Linked DNA regions of Homo sapiens. The protein of the gene in region 4 interacts with the protein of the main gene of each other region in a biochemical or structural test. Each region holds a gene or a part of one and is shown on either strand. Other genes may lie near its edges.

Region 1 (4,026 bases), on a different chromosome or scaffold from region 4:
CCGTACCCGCTGAGGCTCAGGGATCTTTCTGTTACTCCAGGATGTTTGACCAGGATCATCTCTTAGCAGCTGGTCTCTCAGGGGATTTGAAAGGCTATGATGGGCTGTGTGATCCTCAGCAGGTCACTGGAGCATCCTGGGTCTCTGGGTTTCTTTATCCTGTGGGGATGTGGGATTTCTCAGGCACAGCTTCAACTCTGATCATGTGCTATCATCCTTCATCCTTCAGACAACCCTGTGGAGTAGGTTTTATTATCGCCCTCACTTACAGATTAGGAAATGGAAGTGATGAGAGGTGAAGCAAATTGGCCAAAGTCCACAGCTAGGACAAGGCTGGGCTGCGATTCGAAGCCAGGTCTGTGTGACCCCACAATCAGGATTCAGAATTGCTGGCATATTATCTGCCAGGATAAAAACAGGCATCTGGTTTGACCAAGCTGGGGCCAGCAAGAGCCTAAGTCGATGACTCATCACACTGAAGGGGCCCCATAGATTCTGAGTTGGTTCCCGCATTTCTTTTGATGATAATACACAGATCCTTGTGGCTCAGGTCAAGGAAGCTGGAACCTCATTACACTAGAGACGTGTAGCTGGAGCAGAGGAATTCCGTGAAAACACTAACAATCGTTGCTGCCACTTACTGAATGCTTCCCATGAGTCAGGCGCTGGGCTAGGCTCTTTACATTAGGGGCATCTCCTAACAGCTCTTCATGGTTGCCTCTGTTATAATTCTCATTTCCTAGATAAGGAAAGTGACACTCAGAGAAGGAAAGGGGCTTGCCCAAGGTCATATTCATGGTAAGCAATGGAGACAAGAAATCAACCGCATCTGTTGGACTCCAGAGCTGATTCTTAATCAAGTCTGTGATGGGAAAAATATTGACCACTGTTCCTAAAGAAAGGCCACTCTAAGCTGGGCATGATGGCTGTCACCTTTAATCCCAGTGCTTTGAGAAGCTTAGATGGGAGGATCACTTGAACCCAGGAGTTCGAGACCAGCCAGCACAATGTAGCAAAACCCTGTCTCCACAAAAAAAAATTTCTAATGTAGCCAGGAGTGATGGTGTGCACCTGTAGTCCCAGCTACTCAGGAGGCTGAGGCAGGAGGATCACTTGAGCCCAGGAGTTTGAGGTTACAGTGAGCTCTGATTGCACCACTGCACTCCAGCCTGGGTGACAGAGCAAGACCCTGTCTCTGAAAAAAGTTAAAAAATTAAAAATAAATAAATAAAGGCCACTCCCACTTTTGAATACAATAATACTTCATACTTATAAAGTACTTTCCATTTACAAATTACATTCACATCTGAAATCTCATTGAATCATCAAAAGAGCCCTGAAAGGGAGCTATGACTATTATCACCATCAGGCAGATGAATTCACTGGACCTGAGAGCTAAAATGATCCACCCAAGGTCCCAGGATTTAGAAACATAGGCTTGGGAACCAGACAAACTTGGGTTCAAACCTTGGCTCTGCAATTTTCATTCCTTTGATAAATATTTACTGAGAACCTAGCTGTGTGGGCTCAGGCAAGTGACTTCGCCTCTCAGAGCCTCCATTTCCTGTTCTGTAAAAGAGTCTTCATACCACTTATCAGATCCATTCCCTCTCTCATCTGAAAATGCCAGACACTTGCTTTCTCAGGTTCCCTCAGAGCTAGAGCATGAGCATGTGACCTGTCCTGGCCAATGGGATTTTAAAAGAAGTCTGCTAGGGTGCTCCTGGGAAAGGGTTTCCTCTCAGAAAAAAAAAGAAAGTGGGCCAGGCGCTGTGGCTCACACCTGTAATCCCATCACTATGGGAGGCCAAGGCGGGCAGATCACTTAAGGTCAGACATTTGAGACCAGCCTGGCCAACATGGTGAAACTCTGTCTCTACTAAAAACCCCAAAATTACCTAGGCATTGTGGTACATGCCTGTAATCCCAGCTACTCGGCAGGAGGCTGAGGCAGGAGAATTGCTTGAACCCAGGAGGCGGAGGTTGCAGTGAGCTGCCGAGATCATGCCACTGCACTCCAGCCTGGGCGACAGAGCAAGACTCCATTTCAAAAACAAAAGAAAGAAAGTGGAGCATAGGAGAAAATGTTTCTCTTCACGGATTAAACATCACTGAATGTACGTCTGAGGGCTGGAACTGGGCAGCCATCTTGTGATATGAAGCATCAAGCATGAGGACCAAGCCACTTGCAGGGGTTGGGGAGCAGAGGAGCAGAGAGATGAAAAGAATCTAGAATCCTGGTGGCATCATTGAGCCATTAACTCAACCTAAAACCAACTGCCTTGGAACTTCATATTATATTCAATGATGCATCTTCCTCCTTATTGAAGCTACTTTGAGTTTTCTATTCTGCTGCTTGCAGCCCAAAGCATCCCTAACTGGCATACTACCTGGTTGTATCCCTGTTGGAGGAATTTCAATGAGATAGCAGATATGAAGCACCACTAATCAGTGCTGGGCACAACAAACATAAGCTACCCTGGAAATTAGGAAGTTATCTCAGGGCTTTAATCCTGAGACTATCCCAGGGATCACAGACACTCCTGGGCTGGCAAATCAGTTCCCTGTCTCTCCTACTGAGAAAAGCCTGTCGAGTTTTCCGAGAAAGCCAAAGCCCCGTGGTAGCCCCAGCACCGCAACCCTGTCACACCAATGGGGCTGTCCCCATCTTCTAAACAAGAATCAATCACACTGCCTTTTGCCTAATGGGTTTTGATTTTCGCTCCCCTGATGGCAAAGCCTAGGGCCTGTGCTTTGGTTTGTCTCCGAGTTGCCAGAACATCCCATCAATTATTAACAGTGTCAGCTCAGTCTCCCTGGCCCTGCTGCTCTCAGAAGGAAAGGGTTTGCAGCAACTCGGCCCACCCAGCCCTAGAAAAAAGACTCTTTTCCTTAGCATTTATAACAACAATCCCCACCTGCTATGTGCTAGGCTTTGAGCAAAATTTTGACAAATGTGATTTAATGAAGACCCTGTAAGGTGAGCCTTTTATCTCCATTTTACAGGTGGAAGGTTGGGACTTGGAAAGTTGGAGAAATTAGCTAAAAGCTATGGAAGTGGGGAGTGGCACAGAACCAGATCCATCCTTGCTCTTCAGCATATGAGATATGGCCACTTTTGTATCTTACAATCACCTAGAAATGATCCTCCATTTGGTCCTGTCACTCTGTGAGTTCTAAGCAATTTCCACAGGCTTTGCTTGTTTTGACAAGCAAGGCATCCAAGCTGGGGGGATGGGTGGGGATGGGATGGGCAAGGTGCAGATGACTCAAAGGAGGCCAGAGGCACAGGGACCTGGGTTGCAGGTGGGCAGTGAGAAGGGGTGACAGGTCCCCAAACCCTGAGACACAGTGACTGACTGCTTGCTTGCTTGCTTGATTCATTCATTCGTTCATTCATTCATTCGTTCATTCATTCATTTATTCATTCCACATGCTCCTCAGTGCCAGGCACCATCATGGGTGCTGGGAATCAAGCAGTGAATCAACTCATGGTACTCACATTCTTGTGGGTGTGAAACAGAGACACACAAAGAAGGAAATATAATTTCAGATGGCGTTTAAGGCCTCTGCAGGAAAGGCATTGCATGATGCAACAGAGAGTGAGGGGAGGGAAACTGTTTAGAACAGCGGTCAAGGAAGGTCTGTATGAGGAGGGGACATGTGAGCAGGGACCTGCTCAAATGAGGAAGGGGGAGAAGGGGCTGGCCAAGGGGGAATCTGGGGAAGAGCATTCCAGGCAGCGGAAACAGCAAGTGCAAGGGTCCTGAGGTCAGATAAACTCTGGCCTGTTTATGGAACAGCAAGGCCAGTGGGGCTGGAGCCAAGTGAACCAGAGGAGATCAAAAGAGATGAGCCCAGAGAGGTCATGGGGGCCAGATTCTGCCTGGGCCTTGTATGCCAGGATGAAAAGTCTGAATTTTATTTTGAGTGTGATGGGAAACTTCTGGAGGATTTTAAGCAGATGAATAATGTGATCCAATTTACATTTTGAAAAGCTCACTTTGGCTGCTATGTGGGGAATGG
Region 2 (3,535 bases), on a different chromosome or scaffold from region 4:
GTTGGGAAAAAGACTCAGGATTGTTAATTCCCCACTCAGAACTTTATCCCCTGCCCCATTATTAGATGGTTAGAAGGTGTCTGTGTCCATCCTTCACTCTCTGGAAGGTCTTCCTGATGTCTAACTGCATTCACTCATACTGTGCCTCTAGGCAGCCGGGACCACAGGCTTTTGTCCCCACGCTGTGGGATCTCCAGGGAGCTTTGGCCTAGACTGTCTCTCTCTGTGATTCCCTGTGTGTCTGTCTCTTGTGTCCTGTGGGTCTCTCTGTCTTCTCTCCTCCTCCCTCTCTGTCTTTCTTTCACCCTTTCCTTCCTTCCTGTCAACATCTTATCTGCCCCCCTCCTTCCCCTTCATCCCGGTCCCCTTTCTCTCTCACTGTCTCCTATTCTTTCTTCCTGTTTCTCTTCATCCCTGTCTCTGAGTCCCTGTTCCTCTGTCCTTGTCATTCTGCATCCATTCTTACCTCTTTGTCTGCCTTTCTCTGTTTCTCTGCCTCTGTGTGGTGTCTCACCTCCATCCTCACCTCATCCCATCACCTCCCCAGCCCTCACCCACCCACCACTCACCCACTCACTGACCATGCCCTGCCTCCCTGTCGTGGCTGGGCCTGCTTGCTCCCCGTGCCCAGCAGAATCTGAGCTCTACACATGTCTTGGAGAAACCAGGGTCTCGCAGCTCCTAATTCTGGAACCCAGGGGCTAGGCAGAACCCGAGGCAGGAGCCCAGTGAAAGGAGAAGCCCCATGGAGCTCTGCCTGGGAGTAACCAAGCCTGTTTTGTGTTTCTTGCTCTGCTCTGTATATATAGAGCTTCTCTTCCCTCCTCCGTAGCTGAAAGCCCCCAACCGGTCCGAAAGCTCCTTGAAGACCGTGCTGCCGTGCACAGACACGGGTTCCTCCTGCAGCTGGAGCCCACGGTGAATAGGCAGGCGGGCCACAGGGCCCTGTGTGTCCCTGCTGCTTGCAGTGGCCATCTGCTGCCCACGCTGTCAGCAGGTTCTTTGGACTGGCGTCTGGAGGGTACACAAGGCGCCATCCCTGAAGTGCTGCCTGGGGCCTGCTGTTGGCCACAGTGGAATTCCTCAGACTCAAAGCCCTCCCCTCAGGGAAGTGGTGCAAAGCCCAGTCTGTAGTACTTGCTTGGGACCCAGGTGTCCTGACTCATCACGGCCCTGGGACCTGCTTTGGGTCCCAAGCAGCACCCAAATGAGCAGGATGAAGCCCTGGGCAACATTCTCTGAGGGACACAGACAATGCCTCGAACCAGGCATGTGGGGCTGAAGGAGCCCACAGGAAGCCTGGCTGGAATTGCCCCCAAGAGATGTCCTCAACAGAATGTGAAAATTCCCCTTCCTGTGAATGCCAACCTCCTGGGAGCTCTTGCTCCACCATGGCCCCCACACTTGGCCAGAACCAGGGCTATTAAGAGGTTTTGAAGGCTGGTCCAAAGAACCAGGGTTGGTGGATTAGAGTTGCTCATGTCCTGTTGTGCCCTGTCATGGCCTGAGCCGTGCTTAGACCAAACGGTCTTCTCTGCCTTCTCCCTTCCTTGGCTCTGGGCTCTATCTGTGGGATATACCGTGGAACCCAGCTGTAGGATGTGTTTCTCACCCTGTGATAGGGATGTGCCCGTGGACAGAGCTGGCAGGTGGCTGTGAAACTGGTGTTTGGTGTGGCCTGAAGCCACAGATGGCAGCATCTGGGGCAGACCCAAGCCTGGACTTGACTTTTCTGTTACAACTTTCCCAAAACATTAGGGCCTCATGCTCCCAAGACACTTGGCCGGGTAGACCATGGCTTCTGGGGTGGCCTGCATGGCCCTATGTTTTCTGTTACTTGCCTTTTGCAAAGGACTCTTGCCCCTGTTCCTCCCAGTCTCCTCCTTCCCCCATCCCAGGTGTCCCTCCCGCTTTCTCCCTGGCCTCCTGTGTGCTGTGGCTGTGGCTGGTGTGTAGCCACTTGGGGCCTGCACCCAGAGGGGTCTCCAAAGGGTGGCAGGGCCTTGTGCTGCCAGAGTGGGTACTCCCCCTTGTGGGGCCTTGCTCTGGCTGGGCTGAGTGTGCACCCACAAAGCCTGTATCCACCTGGGCTGTTTCCACTTCCCTGCAGGACCTTCTTCTGAAGTCCAAAAGGGGAAACCAAATTCACCGTTAGGAAACAGTGAGCTCCGGCCCCACCTCGTGAACACAAAGCCTCGGATCAGCCTTGAGAGAGGCCACACTACACACACCAGATGGCATCCTTGGGACCTGAATCTATCACCCAGGAATCTCAAACTCCCTTTGGCCCTGAACCAGGGCCAGATAAGGAACAGCTCGGGCCACTCTTCTGAAGGCCAACGTGGAGGAAAGGGAGCAGCCAGCCATTTGGGAGAAGATCTCAAGGATCCAGACTCTCATTCCTTTCCTCTGGCCCAGTGAATTTGGTCTCTCCCAGCTCTGGGGGACTCCTTCCTTGAACCCTAATAAGACCCCACTGGAGTCTCTCTCTCTCCATCCCTCTCCTCTGCCCTCTGCTCTAATTGCTGCCAGGATTGTCACTCCAAACCTTACTCTGAGCTCATTAATAAAATAGATTTATTTTCCAGCTTATAGGAGTGAGTGTGGATTTGGGCAGCAGATTCAAGGCTGCAAATCAAAAAACCATAAGGTTTGTGGCCCCTATTCAAGGGTGATAGACAGATCCCAGTGCTGTGATCTGGGTCTGACATGAAGGGTGTGATCAAATGGCCAGGGCTGGCTTGGAGCAGAGGTTGAGAAAGCAGGAGATGGGCTGGGCTGGGCTTCAATGTCTTCTCAGCAGAGATGGTAGGAGATGAAGTCTGTGTGGCAGGGATTTTGCTCAATTCCAGAAAGCAGAGCTGAAGGCAGGAGCCCCGAAGGGTCACCTCATGATATGGGGTGCCCAGCTTCTTTCAAGAACGACACAGCCACCAATGCTTCTCCTGAGGTCACCACGACAGCATGTGAGGGAGGAAGATGGCAGGGTCCACTCCCTCCGTGGAAGCACATCCCACAGAAGCTCATGGGAAATGCAAGGGCTTGAGGCAGGAAGGCATAACTCCGGGGGCCCAGCAGGGGGAATGTCACAGTTCTTCTGGTGACAGGGACCAGGGCTGCTAGCTCTGAGGAAGAGGGTGGGGCTGTATCAGCACGACTCGCCTGACCCCGTCTCTGTTTCCCCATTCCAAATTCCTGTGGTACAATCTGATCAGGCCAAATCACCTGAGCGGGCGACCCTTGGGTTAGGGACCAGTCACAGGTCCAATCAGCTGTGGCCGGGGGTGGGGTCACATCCCACCCAACATGGCTGCTGAGGCAGCAAGGACCGTGGGCAGCAAGTCATGATCACCACCCCTACCAGAGGATGACTATGACATCTCTCCTCCCCCACCAAACCCTGGGTATGGAAAGGAAGTGGACTGGGGTCCCAAGGGAAGGCAGTCTTAGGGAGAGTGCCTCTGTGTGAGGGGACCACAGGAAAACCCCTTCCTGAGGTGGGACACTGCAGAGAGCCCCTCGGGGACACACCCAC
Region 3 (4,026 bases), on a different chromosome or scaffold from region 4:
TTGTTGGCGAGTGTGATCTAAGCTCCCTGTGTAATGCACTGTGAATACAAGTCACCCATCTGGGGACGTGTCCTTAATTTGATCATAAAAGGCGAGGACTGGAAGGGACCTGAAGTCCAGCTATCTCTGGGGACCATAGACCCCAAGGGATCCTTAGGGAGTTGTTATCTCTCCTTCCCTCGGACTTCCTGAAACAGAAGCTCAGCAATTAGACATCTAATAGGCACCTAGGCTCCGCAAGCAAGTGGGGGCTTTCCTTGGGTTTCCAGTTTTGCTGGCAACTAGCTGTCGCTTTATTTAACTGGCAGTCTGTGCTGCATCTGACCCAGCACAGTGGTGAGGCTGTCGCTGCAAATGGCCGGCTGAGCTCCCGTGTCTTCTTCTGACCACGTCTATGAGCAGAACATGAGGAACAGAGGCTGGGGTGGGTGGTCTCTGGCCCTCAGCCTCCTTGTACCCCACACCAGCTGGTGTCCCTTGAGTGGAGCCCTGGGCTCAGTACAGAATGAATGCGGGGCTGGGGTTCTTCCTAGGAGCATGCCCAGAGGCAGCAGAGCTGCGCAGCCAAGGGCGGGCACCTTGGCTCTGAGGGGCTTGTCTGGGCCACTTTCCTGCGCTTGGCCCAGGTCGATGAGGCTGGGGCTTTGATGGCCAGGCAGGGTGCACTGATTGGGCTTGGCTGGTCCCACCCATGGTCTGATTTTTCCCCCATCTTAGATCATTTGGGGTACCTCCCAGCCAAGCCTGAGTGTAGGGGGATGGCTAATGTAGCTTGAGTACCCTGAGAACTGATTTGGTGCCTGAAGCCAGATTACCTCTCTCTGCTCTGCCAACTCTTTGAAAGCGGCCTCTTGCCTTGCACAGGCCTTCGAGGAATCAATACCTACCAGAACGGCATTTACCTTTCTCCTGGTGCCAGGAGAAGCCTCTCTCCTGTTCAAAATCCATTCCCAGAAACCACGGGGGCTCCCTGGGCAAGGGTAAGGGTGAAGTCCTGTCTGAGCTCTGCCCACTTCCCCGTGTGACCTTGAGCCTATGGGGCAGCCAGCACCAGCCTTGGCCACCCAGGGCTGTTAGGAGGCCAAGGAAAGCCCTTGGTGATGATGACAGGGGTTTCTGAGTGGACAAGAGACCCTCCTGGGCACACAGAGATGCTGCGAGAGCAGCTCCATCCCTCCACTCTGCTAATACCTCTGTGGGGACATGACTTTCCATTGCCTCCCTAGGAGATTTAAACAGAAGAAGAAACTGAAGAGGAGAGAAAGAACTGAAGCCTCAGTGCATAGACATTCTCTCCTGACAACAGGCCCAGTCACATGATCTGGGCATTCACCTCTCTGAATTCTGTGCATCCTCTGTGGAGGGGTACCAGTCCCACCTGTTCCAGGCAGTCTCGCCTGGCTGCTCTGGGCCACAATGACCTCCCACCAGGGAAGCTCAGCCCCTAAGTTCAACCTTACATTCTTCCTGTCCTGGGCGGATCTCTCCCTGGCCCTCTGAGGCGAACCTAGGAGGTCTTAAGAATTTTCACTGTCCTTTTCTGCCCCTCCAGAATAGTAAACAGAGTGAGGAATGGACAAGAGAGGTTGAGAAACTGTTCTATCAGACTCTGGCTTCGCAAATCACAACTAAATTTTATGTTGGACTTGGGGCATACCAGGTACCCCTTGGGGAAATGAAGTTGCAGGGGGAGGCTGTGGGTACCAAGCTCCCCAGCCCATGGCTGTGGCTCTTCAGGGAAGACAAGTGACGGCAGGCGGGGTGGAGAAGGTAAGATAAGTGTTAAAGAATTGATGTCAGATGGCCTCAGTGTTGTGCCAGGGGTGGTGCCTACCTCCACAAAGCCTGGTCCTGGGACTGTCCCCACACTGGGGCTCCCAGGCTCTGAGAATTGATGTGGGGTCTCTATAAATAGCGTCATTCCATATTGATCATCTTAAAAAGACACGGTATGTTCTAGGCCCACGGATAGGAGAGTTGTGTCTAAAAATAGTCTCATCCCCAGGAACCGCTGCCAGCCTGAGGCGAGTGGTGTAAGCTGTGCATAGCCGAATGGGCAGTCTGAAGGGGTGGGTCAGAAACAGAGGCACAGAACCTCTCCATCCCTACCCTATTCCCTCTGCTCCAACCCACAGAGTTTGCCCCTGCCTCAGGGCCTTTGCACTTGCAGTTCCCTCTGTAACATTCTTTCCCTAGACCTCCTCGGGCTTGGTTCTTTCATGTTATTCAGGTCTCAGTTCAGTCTCCTCCTTCAAGGGGCTTTCCCTGCCCAGCCAGTCTAGAGTCACCCCCACGTCTCTCCATCACATTGTCCTGTTGTATTTCCTTCATAGCACTAGCCCCTATCTCAAATTATCTTCTGTATGGATTGGTTTAATGGTATCTCCCTACTTGTATGTAAACTTCATAAGAACAATTGTTATAGCTTGTACACCTTCTAGAACCTTCCATGGCCCAAAGGCATGAACTCTGCCTCAGACCCCTGCATCAGGGCAGCCTGGGCTGGCAGCAGGCTGTGGGGCTCTCCCGTCCCAGGCTTCCCCTGCAGCCCTGGCCAGCCCTGTCGTGGGTCTGCTCCCCACGGGGCCCAGCCTCTGTCCACAGGCTACTCACTGGCCCTGCTTTTTCCTCTCTCTGCCTTCTTCATGTATTTAGCCGCAGGGCTTTTACTCCAGCTCCCTTCTCCCAATCCTATCACCCTGGATACCTGCCCTAGACAACTTAATCTTGTCCCTAAATACGGCTTTCTGGAACACCCTTCTCTCTGCAGAGCAAGGGCTCCCTTCCCTTTCTGCCTGCCACCCCCAGCAGGAATCACATTTCCTGCCATCAAAATCTCCCTCCCAGAGATTCACAGAAAGAGTTATTCCCTCTACCCAGGCCTTCCTGACTGCCCCCTGAACAAACAGTAACCACTACACACTTCACTGGTACGATCTTAACTCACAGACCTGCAGCCCTCACTGAGGGAAAGGCCTTCCCCCAGGCTCCTGCATGGCGATGTGCTGCACGGACACGCATGCCCACAGTGTCCACTCCAGGCTCTCCCGACAGCCCTCCCTGACCCCACCCCTCGCCAGCTCCCTTCTATCTCTCTCCTCCCTCTTCAACCATCAAACTCTTTGAAAGAGCTGTCTATACATGCTGTCTCCACGTCCTCACCTCCAGCTCGCTTCTCAACCCACTCCAAACTGGCTTCCATTCCCACCAAGTCACTCATTCATTCATTCAACAAGAACCTGTCTGTACTGGGCCCTACATTCTGCGGGCGCTGAGTGGAGTTTCTCCTACCAAGGTCACCAGCACCCTCACCATGGCTCGATCTAATGGACACTTCTTTTTAAATTATTCATTCTTTTTCTATCTATCCATGAACTTCTGAGAATGCACCTTAAGTCTCTCAGCAGAAAGAAACAGGGCACTTTCCCTCCCCCCGAGCAGGGCACTCTCCTTGCCTTCTGCAGCGCCTCCTACTCCTGGCTTTCCTCCTACCTCTCTGGCTGCTCCTTTTCAGCCTTCTCTGCAGACTTCTCCTGCTTTGATGGTTGGAGTATTTCTGGGCTCCTGACTCAGCCCCCTTCCTTCTTACCCTCTACACCACGTTAGAATCACCTGGGTGCTTCCAAAACTCCCGATGCCCAGGCCTCATCCCAGGGTCAAATGAATTAGCATGTCTAGGGCTGGAGCCTGAGCATAGGTATTTTTACTTAAAGCTTTCCAAGTGATGCTAATGTCACCAGGAGTGAGAACCCCAGGTCTGCACTCTCGCTGGGCAATCTAACTCAGTGCCACATCTCCAATGACCAACCTCTGCTGAAAGCTCTAAGTTTCCATTTCCAGCCCAGATCTCCATCCTGAACATACTTCCTACCTGGACCCTTCCCTCCAACTACCTTCTGGATGTCAGCATCTGTCCCTGGAAGTACAACAGGTTCAAATCAGAACCATGAAACATCTGTCACTTTTCCTTTGCTCTTCATCAAGCTTGCCAACCCAAATTTAACTTGCCCATTCTTCTTCTCATGG
Region 4 (5,341 bases):
ATATTGATTCTTCCTACCCATGAGCATGGAATGTTCTTGCATTTGTTTGTATCCTCTTTTATTTCGTTGAGCAGTGGTTTGTAGTTCTCCTTGAAGAGGTCCTTCACATCCCTTGTAAGTTGGATTCCTAGGTATTTTATTCCTTTGAAGCAATTGTGAATGGGAGTTCACTCATGATTTGGCTCTCTGTCTGTTGTTGGTGTATAAGAATGCTTGTGATTTTTATGCATTGATTTTGTATCCTGAGACTTTGCTGAAGTTGCTTATCAGCTTAAGGAGATTTTGGGCTGAGACAATGGGGTTTTCTAGATATACAATCACGTCATCTGCAAACAGGGACAATTTGACTTCCTCTTTTCCTAATTGAATACCCTTTATTTCCTTCTCTTGCCTAATTGCCCTGGCCAGAACTTCCAACACTATGTTGAATAGGAGTGGTGAGAGAGGGCATCCCTGTCTTGTGCCAGTTTTCAAAGGGAATGCTTCCAGTTTTTGCCCATTCAGTATGATATTGGCTGTGGGTTTGTCATAGATAGCTCTTATTATTTTGAGATACGTCCCATCAATACCTAATTTATTGAGAGTTTTTAGCATGAAGGGCTGTTGAATTTTGTCAAAGGCCTTTTCTGCATCTATTGAGATAATCATGTGGTTTTTGTCTTTGGTTCTGTTTATATGCTGGATTACATTTATTGAGAAGTTTTATTATACACACCTTTGGTGACTAATTCCAGAAACCTTAAAGATCACACAGTTTTAAATATGAAAAGCCATCATAGCATCTTGAAGATTCTCAAAGATACTTTATAAATACTCTTCACAGTAGTCTAAGACGACCACTCTCAAGGTTGAGCCAGAAAACAAGGGGAAAACAGGAGTCCTATTATACATAATGATCTCATTTGACCCTTATTTTTGAGCATGAGTTTGAAGTTCATTTTGTTCTTATAAAAGTTTTCTATGTCTTAGGCTTATTAGAAATAGTCAAAACACTGTCATCTTTTTATTCGGATTACTTTCTTAGTTTAGTTTGGTGTAGTTAATAATTCCATCAGTTATTCTCCAACTACTTAGCTAATAGAAACAGGATACTTCTTATATCCGATCCAGCAAAGCCCAGAGTAAGGCTAAGCTTGAAATAACACGCTCAAAAATTACTTTTCTTCTTCAAAGCTGTTGTTAACAAAGTTGTCAGAGAGTACACATTTGCAACAGTTTAAAAAATGGTAATAACCGTTCCTAGCACAGACCAACTTGCAAAGGGTTGTATGTCTCTGAAAGTATTCAAAGCTGTAAAATATCAGACAAAAGGATCTCCTACTTCTAAATTTTGACTTGAGCTATTCAATCTCATTTTCCCAGAAATAATATGTCAGGTCAGAGGAGAGGAGGTTAATAGACCATAATAATAATGAGGCGTCTAGCTCTACCACTGAAGTATAAAATAGAACAGTTAACATTTGGGAATATCAATAAACAGGAAGCTAAAAGCGTTGGTTTTGAGGTAAGATAAAAGATAGATAATTTGTGGGTAAAACTGCACTTTACAAAATTGGTATCACAACTAAGAACAGGTGAACTTTGCTTGCTCACGTTTTGGGGCAGTTAGGAAGTGTTAATGTGGAAAGAAAAGATGTAATAGATTCCTAAGGAGAAGGAGAGTGCTGGTCAGTTGAAAAGATACTCACTCACAACATGCCTCAAACACTTACCATAATTAAGAACTTCATTGAAGGCTCTGCTGCTAGGTAAATATACTTTGAGTTTCAAAGTGATTTTAAGAAGCATATTTTTGGATACAAATTTTATTTGGGGGACTACCTCTTAAAATATTCCCCTAAGGTATCAAGAAACTTTTCTATTAAAGGGCCACATGGTAAAGTTTTAGGCTTCGCAGTCCATACAGTCTGTCACAATTACTACCACCATTTTAATGGGAAAGAAACCATGTATGATACATAAACAAATGAGTATGGCTGTGGTCCAATAAAACTTTATTTACAAAAATAAGAAGCAGATCAGATCTGGTCATAGCCTACAGTTTGCTGCACCCAGTGGAAAAACGTTAAGCCACCCTATGTATTTTAGTCTATTTTTTATGCCCTAAAATTTCTTTGTACAAAAATCTCAACACTATTTTATTTAGTTACTTCACGGAAACCAAGGGAAGATGAAAAAGATGGCCAGGCATATAAGTTTGTGTCACGATCTGAGATGGAAGCAGATATTAAAGCTGGAAAGTATTTGGAACATGGGGAATATGAAGGAAATCTCTATGGAACCAAAATTGATTCTATTCTTGAGGTTGTCCAAACTGGACGGACTTGCATTCTGGATGTCAACCCACAAGTAAGCTGCTTGGATTCCAAAGCTGTTTTATATTTTATTTTCTGTGGAGTTTTTTTCATGTGTGTCGGGGTTGTTGGGTTGGGGTTGTTTGTTTTGTCAGGGTGGAAAGGTGACTCCCTCCATTACCTTTGGGTGATAGAGAATGTTATTATGTATACATAGCTAGTTAAATAAATCTCTGAACAATTAGCCAACAGAGGCTTGGGTGGCAATAGAAACTGTGTGATTAGATCTACAATAGAAGTTTAGTATGTATTTATTTACCTGTTCAAGTAATGCATAAGTGCTTGTGTTAAGAAATGTTAAGTTTAAAACTCAAGTCTGCAATATAAAGAATAAAAAATTAAAGTCACTCCCCCTCCTACCTGACACACATGCACACCTCTACACTATTCATTTTGTCACTCTATATTTCTGTCACCTACCCCTTCCCACTCCGCTACACTCAGCCCAACCTCACGTCCCTACTCAGAGATAAAAATTGTTAATAGTTTCTTATGTCTCTTTCTAGTCATTTCACTATGCCTTAAATACAAATATATATAAGGTAATGGGTTTTCTGTTTTTGTTGTTTCTTTTTACATAAATGGAAAAATTCTATATAGATTCTTCAGGGGTTTTATTAAATAGAACTATTCCTTGGAGATCTTTTTGTGGTAGTTACTGTAGAGCTTTTTTTCTTTGTAATTGCTATATAGTATGAATATATATTCATTTAACCACTCTCCAATTAATCAACATTGAGGTTATTTCTACTTTTTGAGTATTAACAGAATTCTACAATTAACATAAAAAAGAGTTTACATCACTCTTGATGATTTTTGGATCATTGTTTTATACTTTGTTCAAGAGGAACAGACTGAGTTCAAAACAAAATAAATGGATCACTGTTTTAAGAAAGTACTATATGGAATGAGAAGGACAGAACAGGGATAAGTATTAAGTTATGTCCTTTAATTCATAGAACAAGTGCAAACAGCCTTTGATATATACTAAAGGGTAGCAGAATTCTAGTTCTAATATTGTATAAATTGGCTTATAATTATTCTTTTACACAGGCACTGAAAGTATTGAGGACATCAGAGTTTATGCCCTATGTGGTATTTATTGCGGCTCCGGAGCTAGAGACGTTACGTGCCATGCACAAGGCTGTGGTGGATGCAGGAATCACTACCAAGCTTCTGACCGTGAGCTAACCATACGATTTTCCTTCTAAAATCTTTCCTTTTCTTTTGAGCATGTTTAACTGTTATCTAATTTATTTTTATTTATTTATTTTTGAGGCAGAGTTTTGCTTTGTCACCCAGGCTGGAGTGCATTGATGCGATCTCAGCTCGTTGCAACCTCCCCGTCCCGGGTTCAAGCGATTCTCCTGCCTCAGCCTCCCAAGTAGCTGGGATTACAGGCATGCGCTACCAGGCCTGGCTAATTTTTGTATTTTTAGTAGAGACGGGGTTTCACCATGTTGGCCAGACTGGTCTTGAACTCCTGACCTCAGGCAATCTGCCCACCTCGGCCTCCCAAAGTGCTAGAACTACAGGCGTGAGCCACCGTGCCTGGCCAACTCTTAGCTAATTATGCTTATGAAATAAACATGCTATATAAGGTGCTACAGAATGAAAATTAATTAGATGTAGTTAGGATCTGGAACAGTATTCTTTTACTTGAAAATCATTGTACACTTTATTTTAAATCAAAAGTTTAGTTCCCCTTTGTAAAATGAAATGGACCAATATTAAAATATGCGTATTAATTGAACGCCTTCATTTTACTAGTGGGGTAACTGGGCTCCGAGATCATTAACAGGCATGTTTATTATATGGTTTATCATTGGTAAAGTGGGGTGTTCTGATGTTTAGTTTCTATTACATGTTTTTTCCTTTTTTTCCTGTCTACTTTTTTACTTAATGGAAATTCAAAAATATATACAAAAGAGGGAATAAATGAGTCCCTATGCCGATCGCCTAGCTTCAATAATCGTGGCAATTTCTTGTTTTAATTAGACCCCTCCCCACTTCCTCCTCACCTTGAATTATTTTGAAGCAAATCTTTGATATCATGTCATCTGTAAATACTTCAGTATTTATATCTAAGAGATAAAGACATTTAAAACATACCATTAATACAACAAAAATTAATAAGCAGTATCTTACTATCATCTACATGCAGTCTATATTTGAGTTTCTCCAAGATTTTTTTTTTTTTTTTTTTACTGTTGATTTGTTCAAATAAGGATTCAAACAAGATCAACACATTGAATTTACTCATTGTCACCTAAATCTTTTGCCAGCTTAATTGAGGTATAATTGACACATAATAAGCTGTGCCTACCTAACATGTACAGCTTGATCAGTTTGGCCACATATTTGTACTCATGAAAGCCATTACAACCAAAATAATGAACATGTCCATCATCTCCACACATTCGCCTGTGCTCCTTTGTAACCTGCTCCCCACACCCTTCCCCCTACCACTGTCACCTTTTCCCCTCACTGTACTTGATTATATGCCATGAAATCAGGTAGTATTAGTTTTCTTTGTTCTTTTTCAAGTTGATCCATGTCTCTACTTTCTGAACGTATGAAACATAGTGTTTAATGTCTTTGCAGGTTCTAACATTTGAGTCAGTTCTGGATTGGTTTTGATTGAATGATTTTTCTCTTTATTATGAGTATATCTTCCTGCTTCTTTGCAATCCTGGGAACTTTCTTTGGATGCCAGACATTGTGAGCTTTGTTCTAGGATGCAGTTATTTGGAAATAGTTTGTTTTTTTCAGGTCTCACTTTTTAAATGTGTTAGGTAAGACCCAAGCAGTTCTCATTTTAGGGCCAGTTAATCCCCACAAATAAGGCAAGACCCATTTGGTACTCCTACCACAGGGCTTGTGAGTCATGAGATTTTCTGTTCTGGCTAAGGGGGAATAGGTACCATTCCTGGGTACCTCTAATCCTTTCTGGTGGTTCTTTCTCAGCTTCAGGTCGTTGTACCAAT

Evidence for each region. Proteins that work in one complex are often made in the same cells at the same time.
Region 1: the proteins of PALS2 (region 4) and KCNB1 interact in a test that uses a peptide from one of them, tested with the Homo sapiens proteins (one large-scale study listed by IntAct).
Region 2: the proteins of PALS2 (region 4) and USH1C interact in a test that uses a peptide from one of them, tested with the Homo sapiens proteins (one large-scale study listed by IntAct).
Region 3: the proteins of PALS2 (region 4) and SCN5A interact in a test that uses a peptide from one of them, tested with the Homo sapiens proteins (one large-scale study listed by IntAct).

What each region holds. Positions count from the first base shown.
Region 1 is NC_000020.11:49,475,721-49,479,746, forward strand, and holds part of KCNB1 (potassium voltage-gated channel subfamily B member 1), read right to left. Parts: intron 1-4,026. UniProt on the Homo sapiens protein: Voltage-gated potassium channel that mediates transmembrane potassium transport in excitable membranes, primarily in the brain, but also in the pancreas and cardiovascular system.
Region 2 is NC_000011.10:17,492,952-17,496,486, reverse strand, and holds the end of USH1C (harmonin), read left to right. Parts: intron 1-809; coding exon 810-918; coding exon of another isoform or gene 919-1,134; exon of another isoform or gene 1,135-2,074; intron 2,075-2,110; coding exon 2,111-2,155; 3' UTR 2,156-2,587; downstream 2,588-3,535. UniProt on the Homo sapiens protein: Anchoring/scaffolding protein that is a part of the functional network formed by USH1C, USH1G, CDH23 and MYO7A that mediates mechanotransduction in cochlear hair cells. Required for normal development and maintenance of cochlear hair cell bundles.
Region 3 is NC_000003.12:38,642,740-38,646,765, forward strand, and holds part of SCN5A (sodium channel protein type 5 subunit alpha), read right to left. Parts: intron 1-4,026. UniProt on the Homo sapiens protein: Pore-forming subunit of Nav1.5, a voltage-gated sodium (Nav) channel that directly mediates the depolarizing phase of action potentials in excitable membranes.
Region 4 is NC_000007.14:24,676,985-24,682,325, forward strand, and holds part of PALS2 (protein PALS2), read left to right. Parts: intron 1-2,146; coding exon 2,147-2,349; intron 2,350-3,407; coding exon 3,408-3,536; intron 3,537-5,341.